Linked DNA regions of Homo sapiens. The protein of the gene in region 1 purifies or fractionates together with the protein of each later gene. This does not show direct contact. Each region holds a gene or a part of one and is shown in the gene's direction. Other genes may lie near its edges. The genes, in order: CEMIP, BTBD2, DYNLT2, LMO7, CROCC2, MARCHF8 and SHROOM3.

Evidence for each region.
Region 2: the proteins of CEMIP (region 1) and BTBD2 purify together in Homo sapiens (affinity purification with mass spectrometry, with the first as the bait; one study listed by BioGRID). This does not show direct contact.
Region 3: the proteins of CEMIP (region 1) and DYNLT2 purify together in Homo sapiens (affinity purification with mass spectrometry, with the first as the bait; one study listed by BioGRID). This does not show direct contact.
Region 4: the proteins of CEMIP (region 1) and LMO7 purify together in Homo sapiens (affinity purification with mass spectrometry, with the first as the bait; one study listed by BioGRID). This does not show direct contact.
Region 5: the proteins of CEMIP (region 1) and CROCC2 purify together in Homo sapiens (affinity purification with mass spectrometry, with the first as the bait; one study listed by BioGRID). This does not show direct contact.
Region 6: the proteins of CEMIP (region 1) and MARCHF8 purify together in Homo sapiens (affinity purification with western blotting; one study listed by BioGRID). This does not show direct contact.
Region 7: the proteins of CEMIP (region 1) and SHROOM3 purify together in Homo sapiens (affinity purification with mass spectrometry, with the first as the bait; one study listed by BioGRID). This does not show direct contact.

What each region holds. Positions count from the first base shown.
Region 1 is NC_000015.10:80,777,998-80,782,169, forward strand, and holds the start of CEMIP (cell migration-inducing and hyaluronan-binding protein precursor), read left to right. Parts: upstream 1-1,372; 5' UTR 1,373-1,617; exon of another isoform or gene 1,618-4,127; intron 4,128-4,172. UniProt on the Homo sapiens protein: Mediates depolymerization of hyaluronic acid (HA) via the cell membrane-associated clathrin-coated pit endocytic pathway. Binds to hyaluronic acid.
Region 2 is NC_000019.10:1,995,215-1,998,714, reverse strand, and holds part of BTBD2 (BTB/POZ domain-containing protein 2), read left to right. Parts: intron 1-1,251; coding exon 1,252-1,371; intron 1,372-3,500.
Region 3 is NC_000006.12:169,741,573-169,745,072, reverse strand, and holds part of DYNLT2 (dynein light chain Tctex-type protein 2), read left to right. Parts: intron 1-798; coding exon 799-1,005; intron 1,006-1,834; coding exon 1,835-1,993; intron 1,994-3,500. UniProt on the Homo sapiens protein: May be an accessory component of axonemal dynein and cytoplasmic dynein 1. Candidate for involvement in male sterility.
Region 4 is NC_000013.11:75,803,830-75,807,329, forward strand, and holds part of LMO7 (LIM domain only protein 7), read left to right. Parts: intron 1-459; coding exon 460-712; intron 713-1,649; coding exon 1,650-1,931; intron 1,932-2,228; coding exon of another isoform or gene 2,229-2,432; intron 2,433-3,500.
Region 5 is NC_000002.12:240,986,336-240,989,835, forward strand, and holds part of CROCC2 (ciliary rootlet coiled-coil protein 2), read left to right. Parts: intron 1-2,403; coding exon 2,404-2,535; intron 2,536-3,318; coding exon 3,319-3,498; intron 3,499-3,500.
Region 6 is NC_000010.11:45,465,872-45,469,371, reverse strand, and holds part of MARCHF8 (E3 ubiquitin-protein ligase MARCHF8), read left to right. Parts: intron 1-3,500. UniProt on the Homo sapiens protein: E3 ubiquitin-protein ligase that plays several important roles in innate immunity and adaptive immunity.
Region 7 is NC_000004.12:76,756,729-76,760,228, forward strand, and holds part of SHROOM3 (protein Shroom3), read left to right. Parts: coding exon 1-209; exon of another isoform or gene 210-360; intron 361-1,320; exon of another isoform or gene 1,321-1,864; intron 1,865-2,816; coding exon 2,817-2,967; intron 2,968-3,500. UniProt on the Homo sapiens protein: Controls cell shape changes in the neuroepithelium during neural tube closure. Induces apical constriction in epithelial cells by promoting the apical accumulation of F-actin and myosin II, and probably by bundling stress fibers.

The sequences.
Region 1 (4,172 bases):
CTTTCTGGAAGAGGCCTAGAGGTGGATTGCAGGACTTCCCAGTTTAACCAGGTGACAAAGGCTTCTGCTTCAGCCCAGATGTGATCACAGACTTCCACAGCTTCTGCCGACCACAGCCTGGCCTTAAAGTCCAGACCTAGAGTCCCGGAGCTAGTGTGTACTACACAGAATGGAGACCTTGCCTGAGGAGCTGGTTCTCAGAGAACACTGGCAGGAAGGAAGAAAGAAATGTATATTCTAGGAGGCCTCTGCTAACCAGGAAAGGGGGCTGAGTCACACTCTGAAAGGTGGAAGAGGCAGAGAGCAGGTATCAACGCCCTCATTTTACAGATTAAAACAAAACAAGAAAAACAAACACTCCTCACCTCCCTGCAAAAAAACCACCCTGAGGCTCAGACAGGGGAAGTAGCTGGCCCTGGTCACACAGTAGGTTAGCGGCAGAGTTGAGAGGAGACTCCATATGCCCTAGGGATGTGTTGTGATGAACTTTTCCTACTGGTACTGTTTCCTCCCGCGAGGGAATGTCTAGACCAGCCGCACCTTCTTGCTTTGACCCTTCAGAACTTTGGCCTGTCCAGTTAAAGAGGCACAGAGCCCTCCTACCCACAGGGAATGTTTCTAACTTACCAAGCACCTATTATGTGCTTAGAACTTGGACTTTCCTGATCTCATTTAAGCCTCACCATTCTAGTGAGGAAGCATCACAGAACCCATTTTCCTGATGAGGAAACTGAGACTGGGAGGGGTTAAGATCCTGTACACAGTTGTAACTGGCATGTCTGAATCCAGTTTCAAACCAAGGTGCCTTTCAGTGAACACCCAAGCATCTTCCTCTCGGATTAACTGCTAGGCCAATACCAAAATCTCTTTCTCGGGCTACTCTTTTGCTGCTGAGTTAAAAAGAGATCCTGAGACTTAGCCTGGGACCCCGACTCGCGGCGATTCTGTGGCAGGCGCAGACCTTTTCTCCTGTCCTCCACTGCCTCTTTGCCTCGGAGGGCGCCCCGGGGCGCGAGCGGGGCACGGGCGACCCTGGCTCCTTGGAGGCCCGGGGACTTGCTCTCCGCGGTCCGCCGCGGCCGCTCCACCGAGTCCTGGCCTCCAGCGCCCTCACCTGGCTGCTGCGGGCGGGACTCTGCGCACCCGGGCTCCGCGGGCTCAGGTCTGCGTCTCCCAGAGCCGCCGCCAGAGCCCGCCCCGGTCCGGCCCGGGCACAGGGCCCCCGCCCCACTTGGGCAAGGCGGGGGCGCGTGGAGGGAAGTTTCATCGGGGGGCGAGGGAGGGAGCTTCGGTGCCGCGCGGGCGTCAGGGGCTCCTCGGGGGAGGAGTCAGTAAAAGTGGCTATAAAAGCGGCCTCTCGGCTGAGGGCCGGGGAGCTAGCGCTCAAGCAGAGCCCAGCGCGGTGCTATCGGACAGAGCCTGGCGAGCGCAAGCGGCGCGGGGAGCCAGCGGGGCTGAGCGCGGCCAGGGTCTGAACCCAGATTTCCCAGACTAGCTACCACTCCGCTTGCCCACGCCCCGGGAGCTCGCGGCGCCTGGCGGTCAGCGACCAGACGTCCGGGGCCGCTGCGCTCCTGGCCCGCGAGGCGTGACACTGTCTCGGCTACAGACCCAGAGGTAAGAGGGCCTGGCTGGGGGCGTCAGGGATGAGCTGACGGCCCATGCCACGGAAGAGAGGTAAGAAGTGGGGGCCCGCGCCTCCACCCGGCACAGGGTAAACGTTACCCGCCTCAGTTTCTGTTTGTCTGTCCACCCTGTGCTGTGCAGTCTACCTCTATCTGTCTGTTTGTCCATGCGTCTGTTGATGGGCACACGCTCTTGGCACTGTCCTCTGTGGGATTTCTCTGAGATCTTGTGATGCTTTACAAGCTGCAGGTGCCGGGGGGCGCTGGAGTCCCCAGAGGGCATCCAGAGGGGGCAGACTCCTGCTTTCCGTAGATTTTCCCCCTTCTGAATGGCACCGGGGGCTTGCGCCCGGGAGAGTGTCTCGCCGAGGAGGGAGTACCACAAGGGTCAGGTCTCGGTGTCCTGCCGACTGGGAGCCAGCTCACGCCGAGCTCTAGCGGGCGTGCGCCTAGCAACAGGTCTGCGCCCTGCTGCTCCTGCCTCAGCACGCTCTTCCTCCCAGTTTCCCTCGCCTCCCAGTGCCTCCGGGACAGCGCTAGGCACCCAGCGACGCGCTGGCGCGGGGCCGAGCTGAGGCAATTGCAATGTTAGATGAACCCGGGGGGCTCTGCTGATGTTTAGACTGAGACTCCAAACGTGGCATCGCTGGAAGAAGGTCTGGTGGTCCCTGGCAAAGGACGTCGGCTCCAAGAAAGGTCGCGTTAGGTTGTGAGGAAAGGCAGAGAGTCCTGGCAGAACGCTGGCCAGGTCTCCAGCTCGCCGCTCTGGGAACGAAGGCCAGTGACATTCTGGAATGGACCCCAAGGGATGCGTGTGCTCATGAGAGAGGAGCGCTGTGCGCCCTGGGTCCTCAGCCGCAGACACTCTCTGCGACAGCCGCTGTTCCCCAAGGGTCGGACGCTACGGCAGTCCCAGGAGTTCCGCCAGCTGCCGGGTTTGAGGTCCTGAGTCCTTCTCCAAGCAGCCAACGCTACCCACAGGTGAGAGCTCCCTTTAAAAACTAATCTTCTGATGTGTGAGCCAGTGCCTGGCTGCAGCCCCATACCAGGGACGGTGAGCCGGGGAGCGCGTCTCTCCATCCCTGCGGTCTGGAAAGTGATCCAGGGCGCGCCCGAGGGCGGGGAGCCGGCGGCTCTGCGTGCCCAGGCGCGACGCCACCATGGACAGCTCCCAGCCACTTCCTCCACTCGGGGTCTGTGGCCCTGGGTCTCCGGGGAAGTCGTGCGCTTTCTTCCCAGACCCAAGGCGTTGGGGCGCTGGGAAAGAGGAAAGGGACTGAGAGTCCGCTGGGGCCCTCGGTATTACCACTCAGGAGGCAGCCCAGCCCTCAGGAGTCTGTGGTTTGTGACCAGGTCCTAGCTGAGCCGGCAGTTCTGCAGGACCTCCCGGGGGCACTCTGTGGTTCTCTGGCTTTTCTATGACACCACGGAGACCCCTCAGAGCTGTTAGGAAAGTATGGCCCCTGAGAATCCGACCCAGGCAGTGAGATAATGCCAGATACAATTACGCCAGACATAATTAGGGATCCAGCTCAAACTGTTTTCTGTGTAGGGCACAAGTTCATGTGTTCCATCAAATTAAATTATTTATTTAGTACATATGGGATTGGGAGGATATATTAGTTTTACGATTAATGATAGAATGGAGAAGAAATCAAATAGAGCAAATTTATAGAGAAGGCAATCGGATGCATTTGCAAAAGCAACTATGCGGTTTTCTGATCCTAATAGTTTTGTTCAAAGCCCATGACTTTCTTAAAGCAATTTCCAAAGGCTCCTTTTTAGCCCAGTAGATGACTTTTCAAGTTGGTCACTTGAAACAGGGTGGAAAAACCTGTAGGGTTTAATCTGTGCACCAAATTAAAGATCTCCCTTCTCTGGTAAGAAACGACACTGGATGGGGCTCTTTTTGTCATTTCCACCCATACTGAAGTGTGTATCTTCCTTTATTTTAAAATTACAAGAAACGCAGGTCTGCTTTTTTTGTGTGTGACTGACAAAGGCCGACGGAGAGTAAAAACAAGTAAACACCTCTTATAAAAAAAAATTTTGAGACAGCATCTGTGACTTTGGGAAAGTTGCTCAAATGTTTTGTGCCTGTTTGCTGATATGTAAACTGGGAATAACGCAATGCCATCTTGCAGGGTTGCTATGAGAATTACAGTAATTGGTACAATGTAAAGCATTTAATCCAGTGCTGAGCATAGAGAAATCGTTTTAAATGGTAGCAATTACAGGTATATTTTAAAGACAGTTGTGCATTTCTTTTGAATTATGTTCACCATCCCTTTGCCCTCTCTCTTAACCTAGTAACTGTTTGATAGGGACTCCATCTTCACTTTATTTTTGCATCCGAGAACTTGTTGATGGAATTGATGAAAATGCTGGAGTTGATCACAATGAAAAAAAAATTCTTATTTAAAGACAAATGGAAGAACTTTTATGTGATAAAAATCGGTCAACTGTTTTCCCCTACCTACACTACTTGGAGGAAAGATAAAAGTAAGTTGTTTTCAAAATACTCTCACAGCCCTCTGGTTCAGATGA
Region 2 (3,500 bases), on another chromosome or scaffold:
GACTGTACATGGACAGCACAGAGTGGCGTCTTGAGCCTGGGAGCCGTGGAGTTCTCCCCACCCCATACAGACCTGGCCAAACGCGGGTTCATAGCCGGCTCTTGGGGAGGCACCAGCAGCCTTTCTCTGCTCACCGCACCCTCCTGCCTGTGGCGATATCGAAGATCTGAGCCACTGAGTGGGCCCCATAGGCAGCCTGAGCTTCACACGGGGCAGAACCCCCAGCGTCCTCACAGCCACCGCTTTCCCAGCTGGGGCCACCCCTGCTGCCTCCTAACGCTCCTCCCACGCTCCTGCTGTTCCTGGGCCTCCATGCCCTTCCCCATGGACGTGGCGGCTCAGATGACCCCACAGGGCTTCCCTGGGCCTTGCGTTCCTGATGGGACCACGCTCCTCTCTCTTCTCTCACTCAGTGGGGGCTGTTCGGCCATTTGGTCCTCGTCTGTCTCCCTCAGTGAGGCCAGGCCCTGTGCCTGTAGCTGACTCCCTGGGAAAGCTTGTGCTGATGAGGGAATGCGTGAGCAGGAGAGTGATAGAGAGTAGACGAGTGTGAATGAATGAGTGAATAATGAGACTAAGTGGATGAGTGCATGTGGGAATGAACGAATGTGTGTGTGTGTGAATGGGTGAGTGAATGAGTGTGCGATGAATGAGAAAGTGAATGAATGCATGTGTCATAAATGAGCAAGTGAATGCATGCCCACGGGAATGAATCAGTGGATCAATGAATGCATGTGTGGATGAATGAATGAGTGCATGTGTATGAGTTGAGTGAATGTACATGGAAATTAGTTAATGAATGAATATGTGAATGAATGAGTGAATGAACGCCTGTGTGAATGAATGCATGTGAATGAGCGAGTGAATGCATGCATGAATGAACGTATGTGTGAATGCATGTGTGAATGAACACGTGTGAATAAATGCATGCATATGGGAATGAGTGAATGAGTGCGTGCCTGACGCCTGGAAGGAAAGAGAGAGGATGGTGAGGGCTGGCAGAGCGTGAGGCCCTGTGTGGCCCAGGGCATGGTCCTAGCCCTGCCTGTCCTTGCCGTGGGTCCGTCTGCATCACCCTCCTGCTGTCCCAGGCCCCTTCCAGAAGCCTCTGCCATCGGGGGGCCTGGTACATGCCTGCTGGAGGCTGGCAGGGAGCCCTAGTGGGGTGGTCACCCAGGATACCGGGCTGGCCCTCCCGGCCGTGGGGTGGCGGCCACGGGCTTAACCAGGGCCTTCTCTCTCCCGTACCAGGTTCGTGCTGGCCGTGGGCAGCGCCGTCTTTGATGCCATGTTCAACGGGGGAATGGCCACAACATCCACGGAGATTGAGCTGCCCGACGTGGAACCCGCTGCCTTCCTCGCACTGCTCAAGTAATGCTTCCGGATGCTTCCTGCTGGGGAGCTGGGCCTGGGGAGGGGGACCTCAGAGAACGTAGACCCTGTCTGACACCAGCTCAGAGGCCCTGGCTTGGTGGAGATTTCTAGAACGTTCCTGTGCAATGAGGGGTTCCAGAGGCACTTTTTTTTTTCTTTTTGAGATGGAGTCTCGCTCTGTTGCCCAGGCTGGAGTGCAGTGCCGTGATCTTGGCTCACTGCAACCTCAGTCTTCCAGGTTCAAGTGATTTTCCTGCCTCAACCTCCTAAGTAGCTGGGACTACAGGCTCGTGCCACCACGCCCGGCTAATTTTTTTGTATTTTTAGTAGAGATGGGGTTTCACTGTGTTAGTCAGGATGGTCTCGATCTGACATCATGATCCACCCACCTCAGCCTCCCAAAGTGCTGGGATTACAAGCCTGAGCCACCGCGCCCAGCCCAGAGGCACCCTTTTTATTTTATATTTTTTAGACGTGGTCTTGCTCTGTTGCCCAGGATGGAGTGCAGTGGTGTGATCTCAGCTCATTGAGACCTCCGACTTCCTGGTTCAAGTGATTCTCCTGAGTACCTGGGATTACAGGTGTTCACCACCACACCCAGCTCATTTGTGTGTTTTTCAGTAGAGACAGCGTTTCTCTATGTTGGCCAGGCTGGTCTCAGACTCCTGGCCTCAGGTGATCCGCCTGCCTCAGCCTCCCAAAGTGCTGGGATTACAGGCATGAGCCACTGTGTCCAGCCAGTTCCCTGCTTTTCTTTTTCTTTTCTTTTCTTTCCTTCTTTTTTTTTTTTTTTTTGACAGTTTTGCTCCTGTTGCCCAAGCTGGAGTACACAAACAAAAAATAACAACAACAACAAAAAAAAGGAAACATCAGTGAAAGAAATTTAAAAAGACACAATAAATGGAAACACATCCCATGTCCATGGATTGAAGAGAATATTGTTAAGATGTCCACACAACCCACTGCGATCTGCAGTCAGTATAATCCTATCAGAATTACTGTTTTTTGCAAAAATAGAAAAACTATCCTAGAATTCATATGGAATCCCAAGGGACCCTGAATAGCCACAACGATCTTGAAAAAGAACAAAGTTGGAGGGCTCATACTTTCTGATTTCAAAACTCACTGCAAAGCTACAATCATCAAAACAGTGTGGTACTGGCGTAAGGACAGAACGTGGGGACCAATGGAATGGAACAGAGAGCTCAGAAATAAATACCTTTGCACATAGGGTTAAATAATTTTTTGCAAGGGTGCCAAGGCCATTCAACAGAAAAGAGAGTTTAACAAATAGCACAGGCACAACTAGAAATACACATGCAGAAGAATGAAGTTAGACCCTTACCTTACTGTATATAAAAATTAACTCAAATAGATCAAAGTCCAGGCTGGGCACGGTGGCTCACGCCTGTAATCCCAGTACTTTGGGAGGCTGAGATGGGCGGATCACGAGATCAGGAGATTGAGACCATGCTGGCTAACATGGTGAAACCTCGTCTCTATTAAAAATAGAAAAAATAAATAAAAAATAAGAAAATTAGCCGGGCATGGTGGCGGACGCCCGTAGTCGCAGCTACTTGGGAGGCTGAGGCAGGAGAATGGCGTGAACCCGGGAGATGGAGGTTGGAGTGGACTGAGATCATGCCACTGCACTCCAGCCTGGGCGACAGAGCGAGACTCTGTCTCAAAAAAAAAAAAAATAGATCAAAGTCCAAAATGTAAGATCTAGACCTGTAAAATACTTAGAAGAATCCAAAGTGGCCAGGCGCAGTGGCTCAGGCCTGTAATCCCAGCACTTTGGGAGGCCGAGGTGGGTGGATCATGAGGTCAGGAGATCGAGACCATCCTGGCTAACACGGTGAAACCCCGTCTCTACTAAAAATACAAAAAAATTAGCCGGGCATGGTGGCAGGCGCCTGTAGTCCCAGCTACTCAGGAGGCTGAGGCAGGAGAATGGTGTGAACCCAGGTGGCAGAGCTTGCAGTGAGCTGAGGTCATGCCACTGCACTCCAGCTTGGGCAACAGAGCAAGACTCCCTCTCAAAAAAAAAAAAAAAAAAAAGAATCCAAAGTATGGCTAGGCGCGGTGGCTCACACCTGTAATCCCAGCACTTTGGGAGGCTGAGG
Region 3 (3,500 bases), on another chromosome or scaffold:
ATACTCGATGGGGAAACACTGAAAGCTTTTCCTGTAATATTAGTAACAAAGCAAGGATGTCCACTTTTGCCACTTCTTTTCAACATAGAGCTGGAAGTTCTAGCCAAGCAATTAGGCAAGAAAAAGAAATTCCTGGCTATTAATAAAATGAAGCTTACTGCTTTAACTTAAGAGGTTAGAGCATTTATCTGGGACATATTGGGCACTAAGCAAATATTTCATTAATGCATATTGGATGTCACAGAATGGATGTTTCATGTCAAAAGCATGAACTGATATATATATCAAATCAATGCTCTTTTGGTGTCTTTTCACCTTAAGACTTACGAATGTGCTATCTAAATAATTGTATTATTTAAAAATAAGTAAATGAAGTAAAATAAAATTTTAAGACAATGAAGGATAATATTTTCATAATCTCAGGGTAGGGAGGAAGAAAGGTTTTCCCTATATCTCCATCCCATAGCCACTCAGTTGCCCTCCCTGGAGGCCACTCTTGTTTCTAGTTCCTTTGGATCATCCATGGATATTCTAAATATATGCATGCAATTTGTATGTATATGTTTGTGAGTATAGATAAAAGAATAAATAGTATTCCTATTTTTTTTTGCCAAATTGATAGCCAGGAGTGAATCTAGGATTTAGCAACCACATTATTGTAGAAATCTGTTTAACAAATTTCCAAGCTTTGTGTGAGCCCTGTCCCACTGTACAGGCTTATTTAATCTGAAAACTCATTTACAGTTTAAAAAGTAATCTTTCTGCCTTTCTCTCTTCCCCTCTCTCTTTCTCCTCCAGTATACACAGATTTTAAGAGAAAGACTGAGAGAGTCAATTCACAATGTTCAGTATGTGGAGCCTCCTTTTGATGACTCAATTGCTGATATAGGTAAAGAATGGAAGAGTGCCCTGGCAAAATTAAAGTTTGCTAATTCATATAGAATGGAGCCATTGAAGAAATTCCAAGCTCATTCAGTAGAAACTAAAGTCCAGCAGATACTAACAGTAGGTTGATAAATATATATGATAGCAGTATTGTATGAGGGTTCTACAGAGAAACAGAAATTATATATACGAAGAAATTTATTCCAGGAATTGGCTCATACAATTGTCACTAGAACCAGAAGGTATTGTGTCATTGGTGCAGGCACAACAAGTTAGTTAATCAGAGATGTGTAGTCTGTCTGCTAGGTGTCCAGTTCTGCTCCTGGTTTGTAAGAGTAATGCTTTATAGTCCACAAGCCATGTCCATTTCCTTCAAGCTATACATTAATTTATTAATAAACATGGTTAGAAATCTTTGATTTCATTTTCCTGGAGGCCAGAGAAAAATTAGTGGAGTGAGAGACTAGAGGGGAGGGCTGGAAAGAAGTAGTTTTAATATGAGCCCACTGAGCAGGGCAGTGACTTGGTACAGGTTCTGAGTCCAAGTAATCTTCAGTATAAGAAAACCAAAATCTGAATTTTAATAAATGTATAAATTTAAAAAGGTTTCTTTCCTTTACCTAAGAATTTCCTTTACCTTCTAGAAGTCTTCTTTAGAAAATCTCCTTGTGTCTATTAACTGTTTGGCAGAGTAGTCTAGTAAATTACAACTTACAGCTTGTATCGCTAATGAAAAGTAATTGAATATAATTTGAAAACCCCAATAAATATTCCTCAAAATTGTTACTGAAATAGGTAAGCATAAAATTTATTTAATATTATTTAGTTAGGAATATATTTATTTTAAAACAGTTATATATATATTATTTAGACATGTTTTCTACTTGAATTTTTATATAGAAAATATTTGGTTTGAAAATAAAAGTATTTTTCTTAAATTTTCTTAAAGGAAAGTCTTAAAGATGTCAAATATGATGATAAAGTATTCTCTCACTTGTCACTTGAATTGGCAGACCGCATACTGTTAGCAGTCAAAGAATTTGGGTACCACCGTTATAAGTTCATTATAAAAGTATTATTTATTCAAAAGACTGGCCAAGCAATAAATGTAAGTACCCCATTGATACAGGATCTAGCAATTAGAACTATAAGGCATCTCCTCCCTAGTGATTTGATTTTTATTGTGATGACTCAAGGGCATGCCATAGATTCTGAGGTACTTTTTGAAGGAAAGTATCATGTTGTTAAGTATATTTATTTCACTGTAAATTATTTGAAAAGTACAAACCAGCTGGGTTCGTTGGCTCATGCCTGTAATCCCAGTAGTTTGGGAGGCTGAGGCAGGTGGATCACCTGAGGTCAGGAGTTTGAGACCAGCCTGGCTAACATGGTGAAACCCCGTCTCTACTAAAAATACAAAAATTAGCTGGGCATGGTGGTGGGTGCCTGTATTCCCAGCTACTCGGGAGGCTAAGGCAGGAGACTCACTTGAGACTGGGAAGCAGAGGTTGCAGTGGCCCGAGTTCGCTCCACTGCACTCCAGCCTGGGCAACAGACTCAAAAAAAAAGAAAGAAAAGTACAAACCTAGAAGTAGCAATTTGGTACTACTAATTTATTAAATTGCACTGCTATTCTGTTCCTTGATCATATCAATTTTGACAGTTTAATGTCATTTAAGTTAACCAGTAAATTTATTTTGGGCACTAATAGGTGTTAGGTACTAAGGAAAATCAAGGAATGATAAAACACGGACCATGATTCTCAAGGAGATTTTACTCTACTTAAGGAGATAAAGCAGCACAATTTAGAATTCAGGGAAATAAAATGATAGGGATAATGTAAACAGCCTGGGTTTTGGAGTCAGATTGCCTCTGCCACACTTGCTGGCTGTGGCCTTGGCACAGTTTCTTCATCTATAAAATGGTGATGATAAAACTGGCTTCCTAGAGCTGTTGTGAAGATTAAATGAAATTATCTGTATTAAAATCCTTAACATAATCACCAGCACAGAGCCCTCAATAAACAGCAAGGTAATTATAAACATTATTTATTAATAAAGAGATAATATCACTAGGCTGTGTAATTATGTAAGGAGTTGGTAAGGAATATGTGGGAGTTGGAGAGAAAAGAGAGAAAAAGCTGTGTTTGGAAGAATCTGTAGAGGTTCCATAGAGGAGTGGACTGCATGATGAAGCATGGGGAGGGGGACCTGGACTGGCAGAGGGGTACTGGCGAGAGAACCGCCAGTCAGCAAGAAAGAACCGTCCTGGCTCCCATGGAGAAGAGAAGCTGCACCACATATGACATACAGACTTAAGAAATAGGGACGTTGTAGATGATAAGTGCTACAAAGAGAACATTAAGGTAGGGATATGACAGAGTAGCAGAGTGGCTACTTGGGATTGTTTAGAGAAGGGAGAACCCTCTGATGTTCAGATAAGAAGGAACCAGCTGTACCAAAGAGAAGGGAGAATGTTCCAAGCAGAGAAAACTTCAAGTGCAAAGATCCTGAGGCAGGGATGACTTGGAGTGCTTGATATGTAACAAGTGTAGCTGGACTAGTAGCTAGTAGATAGTGGCATGATGTGCAGTGGGGGAATGTTTCAGCTTATAT
Region 4 (3,500 bases), on another chromosome or scaffold:
CTCTTTCTACATCCTTCCTGATCTCTCTCCTCACATATATTATAGATAGCTGCATGCCTTATTTTAAATTACTGAGTTCTCCCAGAATTATTTTTGCATGTTGTTTTAAGTATCTGTGACTCCATTGCTAGATTTTATTTCTATGTATTACATCAACAAATCTTATGGAAAATCATGGAGGAAGAGATTGAGAAAAAAGGGGCTCACTAGTAAAATAGGACTTATTCTTCTTAGAGCCTACAGCAGCAAAAGAATGTACTGCATGTGCCTCCAGTATGCAAAGCAAGTTCCTCCTAATGGATCTTATCACAACTTCGTGACAAATTTCTAAAAATATTCCCTGCAGTTAGCAGTGGCAGCACTGGGTTTCTAAGGGAAAGACAAAGCAGGCGCGCTGTGTGGGTTTCAGTTAGGCGAATAATCTGGAGAGTAAAGCAAATTCTTGTGCCTTCTTTATAGGTTTTGAAAGTGACACAGATTCGGAATTTACATTTAAGATGCAGGATTATAATAAAGATGATATGTCGTATCGAAGGATTTCGGCTGTTGAGCCAAAGACTGCGTTACCCTTCAATCGTTTTTTACCCAACAAAAGTAGACAGCCATCCTATGTACCAGCACCTCTGAGAAAGAAAAAGCCAGACAAACATGAGGATAACAGAAGAAGTTGGGCAAGCCCGGTTTATACAGAAGCAGATGGAACATTTTCAAGGTACTGAGATGGGTGTGATTATTGAGTTTCGTATGCTTTTCGAATATGGTAGGATGTTAAATGTGGTAAAAAGAATGGCTCTTAAATGTGTTTCATAGATCATATATTAAGCTTGACTAGTGAGAATATTTTTCATCCCTCTATTTTTAGTTATACATATCTTGAAGCCATTTCTTCTGTTTTAGAATGTCAGCATATGATTTGCTAGGTCTTTTTTTAGATGCATGACTTCAGTTTATTGGTATTTTTCAGCTTACCAGATAATTTGTATTGTTCATGATGAGCCATGCCATGTAATGTTTTTCCTTTTTTGATTGATCTTAGTGGACATGAAAAGAATCCTTTAATTTCTCAGCAAATTAGCAGAACAGAGTGTGGTTTTGCAAATCCAGCTTCCTCTCATGGGGAGGCGTACGGTTTTGAAAGTGGTTCGGACTCTGAGGATGAACGAAGGTTTCCTGACATAGTTTTGGATGACTTAGCCAACCGTAGATTCCAAGTGAAAAAGAGGCCCCAGAATTTCATCTCGAAAATCACCTATCCTAATTCTTGTCCGCAAATATTTTCTCCTGCTGATATGTTTGCCATGGGGCTATATGGACTGACGAGGTCAGAAATACTTGTCCTGGATCTGGCTGTCTATTATGCTGCTGATTTTAATTCAGAAAGTAACACCCCAAATTGTTTGTTATGTGCCTCTTCCTTTTAACACAGCTTCTAATGAAGTATCTTTGGCCCGTGTGTATCTAGCTATCCTTGAGTTAAAATGAGATGCTGTTATAATAACTTTGTCCTAGGAGCTGTGGTGGTGATGAGAATGGAAACTAATTTGCTTTGTTCACAGTGGTGTAAACTTTGTGAACCAGAAAGCATGCCATTTGTGTTCTGTGTCACAAATGCTCATACAGTGTCTTAACCGGTTGGATGTTTTGAACAGTAATCAGAGGAGGATTTGGGGCACCAATGTGGAGAACTGGCCAACTGTACAAGGAACTTCAAAGTCCTCTTGTTATTTGGAAGAGGAAAAAGCAAAGACAAGAAGCATACCCAACATTGTAAAGGATGATCTTTATGTGCGCAAGCTCAGTCCAGTCATGCCAAACCCAGGGAATGCTTTTGATCAGTTTCTTCCCAAATGTTGGACCCCAGAAGATGTGAACTGGAAAAGAATAAAAAGGGAAACTTATAAGCCATGGTATAAAGAATTTCAGGGATTCAGGTTTGTCGTTGTGCATGTTTCTGTCACACCAGTGTTCATTCAGTACCCCAGCTGGGGTTCTATGTGCATGTTTTTTATAATAATAAGAGAGACAGAGAAAGTCTAATTAGTTCTCTAGTATCTGCGGAACCTATATAATGGAAATGAATTTCTGTTTAAATTTAAACCTGAGGATCTAGATCTTAAAAAGCCCTGTTCTATACATAGTCATAGCACGGCATTATTTTTAGTAGTTCTGTTTTTCTCCAATTCTTTGTCTCATTCCCTCTTCCCTTCTTTTCTTCATGTCACTCACAGTAGAAGGAATTCAGACTCTGAGGATGAGGACTCAGGTTCTGACAGAAGCGCCACCGTTTTTAGTAGAGCACAAAAAGCAGAGCATAGGCTAGACGGCAACTGCCAAAGACCTTCACTCTTGCTGGAATTAGCTACCAAACGGGCTGTAAAATCACCGGACTCCCATGCAGCCAGGAGAAGCAGTAGTGCTTCGGATGAGCCCAGGTGCCCCTGTCTGCATGAGCCTGCCTGCTGCGGGTCTGGCCTCAGACAACCCTCTGCCTGCTTCTGCTGCTCCATTAGCCTGGGACCTGATTGCACTGAATCAGGAAACCTGACTCACTTAGTGGACTTAGTACAAAAGCGTAATGTATAACACGCTGCTTTCTGTGCAACTACATCAGCTTGGAAGTCTGTAGGATTCAACATTCTTCTTTAGCACAATAATGTGTGAGACAGGATATATTTACATGTGGCAGTTCTTTTGAAAAGCCGGTTCAAAAAGGCTTGTTAGAAAGTTTACCTAATTTCACGGTTTTGTTGTGTGTGGAGATGTGGAAAAAGGAAATAACTTTCAGGTGGAGACTGGGAAGGGCAAGTCTAGGGAAAATGCAAAGGGAAGATTCCTTGAGCTCTTTTATAAAACTTCAGAGCAATTTATTTTCCCTTTTTCCTGCTGATTACATATACCTATTGCATAAAGTGCATGATGCACAACTTGTGAAACTTTCAAAGATTATTCCTTCTTCTTCAGGGGACACTTAGGCCACTGTGGCAAATGGAATGAGAAAGGGATACCAGGGGCCAGGCGGGGTGGCTCACGCCTGTAATCCCAGCACTTTGGGAGGCCAGGGCAGGTGGATCACTTGAGGTCAGGAGTTTGAGACCAGCTTGGCTAAAATGGTGAAACCTTATCTCTACTAAATATACAAAAATTAGCCAGGCATGATAGGGGGCCCCTGTAATCCCAGCTACTCGGAAGGCTGAGGGAGATGAATTGCTTGAACCCAGGAGGCGGAGGTTGCAGTGAGCAGAGATGGCGCCACTGCACTCAGCCTGGGCGACAGAGTGAGACTCTGTCTCAGAACAAACAAACAAACAAACAAACAAAAAACAGGGTACCAGGGAGTGGCTTTTGTGTGTGCCTGGGAGGGGTACCTAGTCCATGCTCCAGCCCCATCCGTGGCCTCCATGGTGCCCAACTTTCCTGAGAAGTATGCTCTGCTCTTATTTCTTTAGGGATTATCCAGGAAAGTCATGGGTGTTGGATTAAATGCTAGTCTGTTTTCCTAG
Region 5 (3,500 bases), on another chromosome or scaffold:
CCCTGTTGCCCACTACCCAGGCCTCCTCATGGCCCCTTGACCCCAGAGCCCCACACCCACCCCCTCCCAGCTACTCTCCTGCCACCCTTGCTCATGCAGCCTCAGAGTGGCCGCCAAGATCAAGGAGAGCCAGAGGTCAAGGTAACCTGTGGGTCACCCAGCTGTAGGGACAGGCCTGGAAAGCCGAGCCGGTGTTGCCGGCTCCACGACCCATCCACAAGCTCCCACCTCCAGCGTCCTGGGGGACTCGAGCTTGTTCTCCTTGGGAAGTTTGTTCACCATCCCAGGCTGGATGGCGCAGGGGGAGGGGTGGGAAGGGCAGGTGTCTTTGGACTTCCATCCGTGGAGCCTGGGGGACAGCCCCTTGTCCCTCTGCTGTGTGCTGCTGAGGCCCTGCAGGAACAGGGAAGGTGCCCACACAGCCACCCAGGCTGGCCCTGCAGAGTGGGCTGCACCAGCTGTGGGCCCAGGGTTCTGATGCCCTCACAGCCCCCTTCTGGGAGTAGGCAGGGGGCCCCCATCTGTGAAGTGGGGAAGGCAGGTGCTGAGGCCTCAGGGGTGAACCCCAGAGCAGGGTGGCCCTTCCCAAGGACTCACTGCCACCTGCAGAAGGCCCCGCAGCCCAGCCTGCCCAGGGAACAGGGGCCAGCAGGTCAGGACAGTCACGAAAGCCACCAGCCAGCTTGTCCACAAAGGACCACCTGCCCTCCAGAGTAGGGCCAGCCAATGGGGTCCAGTCACCAGCCCCTGCTGCTATTACTGAAGGGGGCCCAGCGCCATGGAGCCAGGGTGTTGGGGCCTCCCGTGGACGCTGCTGGGGGTGGAGGAGCAGGGGGCTTGCATCAGCCCTGGTTGCGACAGCACTGCCCGGGGACGCAGAGCCAGCTGTGGGCACAGTGCCCACCGTGAGTCCCTGGAGCCTGAGGAGGGGGAGGGAAGGAACAGCTAATGAGTTCCAGGAGGTCAGCTGTGAGGGGCCCACAAACCCATAAACCCTTTATTGGTGTCTCAGGAGGGGAAACCCGGATGTGGCCGTTTATTTATTTTGGATTTCACTTTTCTCTTCTCTTTATAACATGCACTTCCAGGAGTGTAACTGGATTTTTAAAGAAACAGGACTTCCTTTTTCAGTGCAGGGGACTCTCTGTTTTTCTCAGTCCTGAAGAAGAAAGGAACCCTTATTTTTTGTAAAGTTCCAACCACTGACCCTGTAACAAACTTTACCCATGCAAATTATCCCCTCTGTCTTAGGGCCCGAAACCAGGCCTGCTCCAGCCCTGAAGCTAAGAGGGCAGGTTTGTGGTGTGCCAAGTGTGTGCACTGAGCCCCAGGTCTGCTGCCCAATCCTGGGCCAGGGCCAGCACCCGACAGAGGGCATTGGGGCCAACAGAGGACTGACCTGGCACTCCAGCCCAAGGCTGTCACCCCTGTGGACACAGCCCCAGCAGGCATGACCCTCGGGGCTGGGCACGGCAGAGCCTGGAGGCAGCCTGGTTGGGAGAGCAGGGCCTGGGTTCCAGGCCTGCCTCAGCGCCTGCCTGGCCCAATGAGCCTGTGACATCATGGGATCCCTTCCACACCAACTCCCCATGAGGCATGCCCCAGGCCATCTGGGGGTGCTGGAAGCAGGCTGTCTGGGGCTGGTGGACGGTGTTCCTCTCCCAGTGCTGCTCTCTGTAAGAGAGAACTCTTAGATTCAATCCTTTCCTCCAGAGGGCCCATTCGCAAGGGAACAAAAGGTCCCTGCCAACTTTCCCATAGAAAATGTCTGTTTCCTGGGTAACCTTCCCTGATTTTTAACCTGGAGCTTATCCCTCCTGACCTGTACCCATGGGGTAGGGAGTGGGTGACTAAGGAGGGAGCACATTGGGGCAGCCTACAGCCTACAAGGAGGACAGACGGTGGGGATAGTGATGCCAATGCCACAGGCTTGTTGGGATTGAGACAGCAAGTGTACCCAGCTCTCAGGGCCTGTGCCTGTACGAGCTCAGCAGATCCTGAGTGCCAACAGCAGAAGGCAGGTGCCAGAGAGTGCAGGGGATCATGGCTCATGAGACCTGGAGGAACACTGAGAAGGGGTTTGCGGGGTAGCTCCTGGGATGTCACCTTAAAAGATGTAGGGAGTCCCCCATTGAGGATGTTGATGGGGCCATCTGCTGCTCTGTAGCTGGATGGGGACTTGGCCCTATGCTCCTCCTTAAGCTGTCACTCTGGCTGCAGATATTGGATAGACCTGGGTGAGGCCAGGGGTCCTGGCCCAGGGCAGTGCCCTTCCTGACGCTGCCAGCTCTTAGGGGAATTCAGAGTCCTTCCCAGAGGCAACCCTGTGCTCCCAGAGGAGGGCTGGCCTGACCTCACTCCCTGCCAGGAGGCCACAGGTTCTGCCTCCTGGGATCTCTGCAGATGGAGCAAGAGACACTGAAGAGGGAGGAGGATGTGGCGAGGCTGGGGGCTGAGAAGGAGCAGCTGGACCAGTCTCTGAACAGCCTGCACCAGGAGGTGGACGGAGCCCTGAGGCAAAATCAGCAGCTGCAGGTCAACTGGGCCAGTGGAGCTCTGCATACCCCAGGCCTGGGGGCAGACCTGGGGTGGGATCCAGGAGGGTGTCAGTTCCAGAGGGGTGGCTGGTGTACCTCCATCTCACACGTGCACACATGGGGAGGGTGGCTGGACCAGCTTCTGCATGTGATGGATACAGACTCAGACCAAGGCCCCAGGCAGAGCTGGAACCAGGACCCAAGGCTCCTGCCCTTCTTGAGACATTGAAGTCCCCATGGGAGCCAGGCCCGGGCTCTGTAGAGCAGCACAAGGGCCAGGTGAGGGAGGTCAGAGAGGCCTGTGGGGCATGGCCAGAGGCTGCTACCTGCTTGTGTTAGGGCGAGGAAATCCCCTGAGGCCTAGGGGCCTGACACCCACAGAAGGGGCCTCAGAGGCTTCATTCATCCTGTCCACATTGGACATACCCCCATCCTCAGAAACCAGCAGGGGATGGGGGCAGGATGGGCAAGAATCAAACTTCGATGCCCTCCGGACACCCAGCCCAGCCAAAAGGAACCTGGGGTGCCATGAAAACAGATTTTAGGCCCACCCTGGAGGCTGTGGCTTAGTCTCCAGCCCAGCCAAAGCCAAACCCAAGGCCCACGGGCTGAACATGTGCACCTAACCCCAGGTCTGCTGGGCAGTCCTGGCCAGGTCAACACCGGCAGAGGGCAGTGGGGCCCACAAGGACAGGTGAAACACCCTGTGGCACTCCTGCCCTGGGATTCTGTGCGGCCCTCAGTGAGAGACAGCAGTGAGATGCCCAAGTTCTCACTCCAGGCCCAGATGACAGAGATGGAGCAGGCCCACACCCAGCGGCTCCAGGACCTGACAGCTCAGCACCAGCGGGACCTGGCCACAGAGGCAGAGCGTCTCCATGGGGCCCGGCCGCAGGCCACGCAGGCCCTGGAGTCCCAAGAATGGACCCACCAGCAGCAGGTAAAGGTGCTGGAAGAGCAGGT
Region 6 (3,500 bases), on another chromosome or scaffold:
CAGTTTTGTTTTACTTTTTAAAATCATCAATCACCTGTTATTTTAAGAATGAATTTCTGTTTGGGAAATGTTGCTCAGTGTAAAGTGGCATTATGGTTTTGTGGGTCTCTGTGACAAGTCCATGTCCCTCCATCCAGGTTCCCTGGTCTCCCTCCTGAGTAGTCTGTGCAGCACCAGCACAGATGGCAGTGGTGCCTCTCTCTGCTTGTTTCACTTTGTGTGTTCATTACTGGACATAATGAGAACTTTTCCCATTTTTTTAATGATTGCTGATATTTCTTTCTGTAGATGGAACAGTGTTGCCTCAGCTCCAAGGTGATGGGCATTTAGGGTGATTCCAGCCGTTTGCTGTCACAAACTAGTGCAGTGTACAAACCTCTTCCCGCAGGTGTGTGAGGATGAATTCCTAAAAGAATTGCTGAGACAAAGTATATGTGCCTTTGTCATCCTGAGGGCAGTTGTCATCCTGTGGAGGTTTACCATTTGCTCTCCCACCAGCAATGTATAAGCATACCTGCTTCCCAACACTTCCGCCAACACATATTATTTGATTAATTTTCTTGGCTGATAATGGTATCTCATTGTAGTTTTAATTTGTATTTCTCATTGTGAGAGAAATGAAGCATCTTTTCATGTTTTGAGAGCCATCTGTGCATCTTTTCCCATTGTTTCTGTTAAGTCATTGATTTGCAGTACTGTAATTTGTGATGAGTTGTAAACATGAGCTCTTCTGGCCTCTTAACCATCCTTATCCAGCCTGTCTTCACGTTCCTCCTTGCCTAAAAACAAGCTCACTCAAACAGATCATTCCTGTGGCCCTCTCCCTTTTGAAATAAATCAGATGGGCAAATTTGCTTTTGTTAGGGGCCTGAGACCCAAATGTTTAAAAGTAGCTTAGCTGATGAGTGAAAAGGAGGCCCAGTTGGGGGTTGCACAGAAAATGAGGGGCGTGGGTAATAGAGGAGGCTGGGCAGTAACCTGGCAGAAGGCGCCAGAGGCCAAGGAAGGTGCGCTGGTGTCCTGCAGTGAGAAGGATGTGTGCACTATCAACTGGGTAAACACACTGCTATAGCTGCTCCAGCGACAGCAGGCACTCTCAGAAGGGAACTGAGAAAAGGGGAATGCCAGTTTCTGCCAAGGATATATGGAAAAGTTTTTTTTCCCCGTATGTTCTTTGGCAACCTTGTTAAAATCATTTAAAATGGTGAATTTGATAACAAAGCCAGCCACTAAAAGACTTGGATGTAGCAAAACAAATTGTCAAAAAGTATTTATCATTTCTAAGAAATAAAATAAACTGGGATTTAGGCTTGGATAGAAATCCAGAGGTTTGTTTTGGCATAATTAATTACAACATCTGAAGAAGGGAGGATTTTTACAAGAATTTTTTTTTTTGTAGTGAGATTGCTTTATATTCCTTTTCATGACTGGAGAGTCTGTCATTTGGCAACCCGCAAAGAACTTCAGGAACAGAGGGCCTAAGTTTTCTTGACACATTTGGATTTTTGCATGATGAACATTTGCACTTTTATTAGTAATTGTCGAGTCGTGTGTGGTCTGATCCTATGGAGAGGAGAGTGTAGGTGTTCTCTGGAGCTAGTACTGCCCCCGGCTCACACGTGCCACACTGCCTGCTGCTTTCAGAAAGAGCAGGACGGCTGGTCCTGTCCCATCTAGTGAGGTCCTGTCCCATCTAGTAAGGTTCTGTCCTGCAGAGCTCCTAAGAGGGGATTGCTGGCCTTTGATTACACTGGCTTCCAGAATCTGACCATGGAACCATTATTTGAAGCTGTCAGCTTCATTTTGTTGTTGATCAGGCCAGTCTTTTAGGTCTTTGTTGGTTGATAGATTTCTCTCAGGTCTATAGCAGCAACAAATAAAGCTCTTTAAAATTATTTTCTTGACCATTCTGCCTATGGATTGGTTCTGACCTTTGAAATGTTTGCTGTCCTTTAGATCGTGACAGAAGGAGCCTCTTCTGGGAGCTGTGAAGACCCCACAGATCTCACTGGTTTTCTTGCTTTTATTGGAAGAGTTAGCATTTGTTGAAGTTTATATTTATGTAAAATAACAATAAGTAGATTTTAAAATTTTTCTTTAAATTCTGTGATCTAATAAGAAGAGAGACTCTTTCTCTGTCATTGGGAGGCTTGATGAGGATCGGACATACCTGCTGAGAGTATCCTGTAATGTTTTCATAAGATTGGAAATGGTGAAATGAGAGCAGAAATGTAGGCAGAGGATGCCAACGCTGTTTCCTATTTCCTAAGTAAAACTGAGCAGGGCAGAATCTCCCCAGCCCTGCCAGAACTCCCTTCCTCCTTGGGTCCGCTGTCACTGTCATGCTGGCCTTGACATCTGCTACAAGTGCACACACATGGGGAACCACACAGGGAAGTGAACACATGTCCTGACGTGTGTGTGTGCCTGGTGTGGCTGCTTCCTTGATCCAGGCTTTGTTTTGTTACGAGGCTCTGCCCTCCTACCTTCAGGCCTTGCTCCTCATCATGGGCATGCAAGGATGGAATCGTTACCCCAGAGTACACTTTTTGACTTGGATTACTTGTAGTTTAGTACTGGAGTTCAGAACTTTAATTTCCCATCAGAAACCTGCCTCCCGGACCCAGGACACTGACCTTGATTGGGCACGATTTTCCAGATAAGACCTTACCTCCTCCCAACAGGGTTTGCCTTCCCTTCAGAATACAGGAAAGTACACGTGGTTCCAAGAGGACCATGCTCTTACTAAGATAAAAGGGAGGAGGGTGACTAGGTACTTTCCTCTGCTGCCATCCCTTGAAGGAAGGGGGCTTCCTTCAATGCCTCATCAGTTCCAGGGAGTATGCTTGACCCAGCAACACAGAGGAAGAAGTGACCTCATAGCAATGAGGGGCAAGCATGTGGATATTGCTGGGTATTTCTTCCTCAAAGTCTACCTGGGGACAGGTGATGAAGACGCTTACTTCTCTGCAATACACCGTGATCAGGCTTTGGTCTTCATGACACATTTTAGCCTTGCCTATGTGTGTTGAACAGAGCTGGTCATCCTCAGAAATAAAAGAAGAGAGCAATAAGTACAGGAAGGCTTTCAGTCCCAGAATAGTGTTAGGACTAAATGTCAGAGAACAGGGGGACTGTAGGAGTTTGGGGACCTTAGCATGGATACCCTCTCAATCTGCTCCCCTGTGGTATAAACAGTAAAGCCCATTGTACTAAAAGGCCTTGAGTGCTTGTCTCTGGGGCAGGTGGAGCCAGTGATGGGTGCCCCGAGAGGAGGATGCTGGAGAGGGGACAGTGTCTAAGGCAGTTGGAGAAAAAGGACAATGGCTTATGCAGTCAGGCCTAGAAGATGCAAGGGATGTCACAGCATAGTGTCCACAGGCATCCCTAGATGTCTTTCATTTTGTTTCAGGAAGAATATTGACAAAGGTAGTGATGGGAGGGTTATTTCAAGGATGCTATTTTCATGTGTCCAAGTAAACTTAAGATTCCTAAGAACT
Region 7 (3,500 bases), on another chromosome or scaffold:
GAAGACATCAGAACAGAGGCTTTGGCCAAGGAAATTGTCCACCAAGACAAATCTCTAGCAGACATTTTGGATCCAGACTCCAGGCTGAAGACAACAATGGACCTGATGGAAGGTTTGTTTCCCCGAGATGTGAACTTGCTGAAGGAAAACAGTGTAAAGAGGAAGGCCATACAGAGAACTGTCAGCTCTTCAGGATGTGAAGGCAAGAGGTAAGTCCCTGGTGATGTCCTCAGAGAGACTTACAATCACACTCCTTCCATGGGGATGATGATAAGTCTAGGACTAGTTGCCTGATGTTCTCCTACTGCCACAGCTCCTGAACCAAGAGTGACATTTTATCTCAGTCTTGGAGGAATGGCTCTGGCAGTGAGGATGTGGGACAGATATGCAACAACAAAGAAAGTAATAGTAATAATTATAATAATTGCCATTAGTACCCATTGTTAACGTTGTGTGTCAAACATTGTATTAATTTATTTATATCAACATTATTTAATTTTCACAAGAACTTTCTGAGGTGGCTACCAATTTTACCTCCATTTACAAATGAGGAAACTGAAGTACAGAGGAATTAAGACCATGCTCACCAAGGTCATTGAACATGTGAGTGATGGCACCTGGATTTGATCACAGCCCCATGACTGTGCCTGTCTCCAGCAATTACACAGTGCCCCCAGCTCAGCAAAGGTGTACTTGCCGGTTCTGTATCAGAGCTGCTCTGGCAGAGAGGCCCTCAGAGCTCGGTGCTGGGAAAGGAGCAAGTGGAAGTGGTGAGCGTGGCCAACGTCTTGCCAAGACTGAGAGGGGAAGGGCTTTGTAAGGAGGAGAGCCTAGAGAAATAGATTCGTGTACTACACTGACCCTTACCTCTGAGGCATTAAGGTGGGTGTTGGCGCAAATCCTGAAAATCAGGAAAGGTCTGAGTAGGAGCGCACTGTCTGGTTTGGCCCAGTCCGTGAGCCTCTGCTTCTGAAGCTCCTTGAGCCAGCCATGTAACACGTGTCCCAGTGTGCAGTCTGTGCTTTTCATTTCTCCTGGGTTACTGCAGTATTTTCTTGCATGTTTTATTTCCTTAAAAGACTACTATGAGAAAGACTGAGTAGCTTTCATTTTCTCTTAAATTTTCAGTGAAATCTTTGTGGATTGACAGTCTGGGACTCAGCAGTTAGTGGCTTCCAGACTAAATAAAAACAGAACATTTTATCCAAATTTGGGATTGCATTTTAAAAATTTCCAACTGATCCTAACTAAATTACTAACAGGAACACCACGTTTCATTTTATGGGGGAGAGAGAAAGGAAAGAGCTATGTGATACTTACAAGCTATTTGTCACATTGTCAGAGGCTCTTCTGATTCAAGGCCTTAACTGTCACCTTGTCCATTTCACTGCTTTTATTTTCAGATTTGGGAAACAGACTAATTGAGGTGAAGTGATTTATCCAGGGTCATGTCTTTAGCAAACACATACTGAGCACCTACAATGTGCAAGGCAATCCACTGGGTACTATGGGGACCCCAAAGATAAGATTTTTGTAGGTGTGCCAGTCAGTTCACCATGGGTGGTTGCAGTATGGTCATTCTGTTCTCTGACCACTGGCTGAAGGACCAAAGTAACATCCTTAGCAAAGTATTTCCTAGCATTACCACTGGAAATATATGTTTGCTCCGTCAGTTTAGAAGCAGAATGGTCATGGAGCTTTTGCAGCACTGAGACCTTCCTGGGGATTTAAAAAAAAAAAAAAAAAGGCATGCGCCATCTCCTGGTGGAAATAAGCATTGTCCTGTTGGGCATGAGATGGCCAGTAGCCATTGTGAGGGTTGGTCAGATGCCAGAGAATCCCATTTGTAATGCGGTGGACATATCTGAAAACAAAAACAAACAAAAATGTATCAGAAAATCTTTTCCCTGTCTTTCAATTAACTGGATTAAATGTGGTCATTGTTGCTTACTGGGACAGTTATCAAGCAGGAAACTAGTAAAGATGATTTTTTGTGTGTGTGGTTCCTAATTTCATAGTAAAATGATGGGCTAGATGTTAAATAATATCACAAGATTAAATAAAGTTCCTCTCCAAGAGAATCGTACTTCCATAGAGTCATTTATTCAGTGGGTAGGATATGAATTATAGGCTGAAAGGCAACTCAAATGTGGTAAAACAGAGAACTACTAGATAGCAGGTTTCTCAATTCTGAGTTTTTTCTTCAGCCTTAAAACATCCCTATTATATTATCAATGAGTAGATTTTATATCTTGTATTAGTTCACTGCGGACCAGCAAACTGCAGATTTCCCAGGATTATATGGGATAGCAGGCACACTTGAGAAGGAAAAATTTTGTGTGTTCAAGCAACAGTGCATAGTAGGCACTAGAAAGATTACATGTAACCAAAGGAGTATAGGAAATAATTGACCTAAAACCTGAGGTTTGTGCAGCACCTTGAAAATACTTTCACATTGATTGAGTCATGGTTCCACACTGCCTTTCTCTGAAATAAGGAGTCAGTGTCGTTCTTATATGAATCACAAAAGCAGAGAGGTTAAATGTCTTCTCCAGAGTCAGCTGGCGAGGCCATAGCCTTGACTCCCACTGTCATCCCTAATGCTGCTTTTGGTGGTTTTCCATCCCAAGTTTGCCTGGCTTCAACAGCCCTGTACATAGTAATCACTCATTAGTTAACAGTTACTAGTTTATCCTAATTTCTGGGAAAGAAATTAAATAGAATTGTTACGCACTTCTGAATGGACTGACATCTGCAGTGAAACAAAGCCTCTGGCGTGATCTGTGTGGCTATACTTTGTGCTCTTTTTGGCCCAGGAATGAAGACAAGGAAGCAGTGAGCATGTTGGTTAACTGCCCTGCCTACTACAGTGTGTCTGCTCCCAAGGCTGAGCTACTGAACAAAATCAAAGAGATGCCAGCAGAAGTGAATGAGGAAGAGGAACAGGCAGATGTCAATGAAAAGAAGGTAAATAAAGAATGGGATGCCCTTGTTCAGCTTTCCTCAGAAAAATTGACAAGGTCCATGTAATCAGCGTGGTGACTGGGCCTCTTGAGGCAGGTGGGGAAAGGACCTGTCACATCACCAGATTGCACCAAAATCATTAGACTTTGGATTTACATGGCACTTTAACTAATTTCCTCTTAGCTTTTCTGTGAGTAGGCAGGGCAGGTAAGCTACTGTACTTTTCGTTTTTACAAATAACAGAAGTGAAGCTTAGAGGGATTATTAGAAGTCTCATAGCCAGGACTTGAACCCAAGTCCCTAGCCTCCTAATCCAGCACCAGGACCCCGACACTGTTCTCAGCTGCTGGTTGGCCAGTGCCAACGGTGTGTGTAATTTTCTTGTTTCATAGTCAAAAGGAAAATTTTAAAATCTAGAAACTTTTTTTAGGGAAGGAGGCCAATTGTTAAATGACACTTCTGAGAAAAAGTAATATTAACCTTTATATCTTCCCCAGCCCTTTTTGAGGGACTTCAGCGAATAGCTTGAAAGTGCA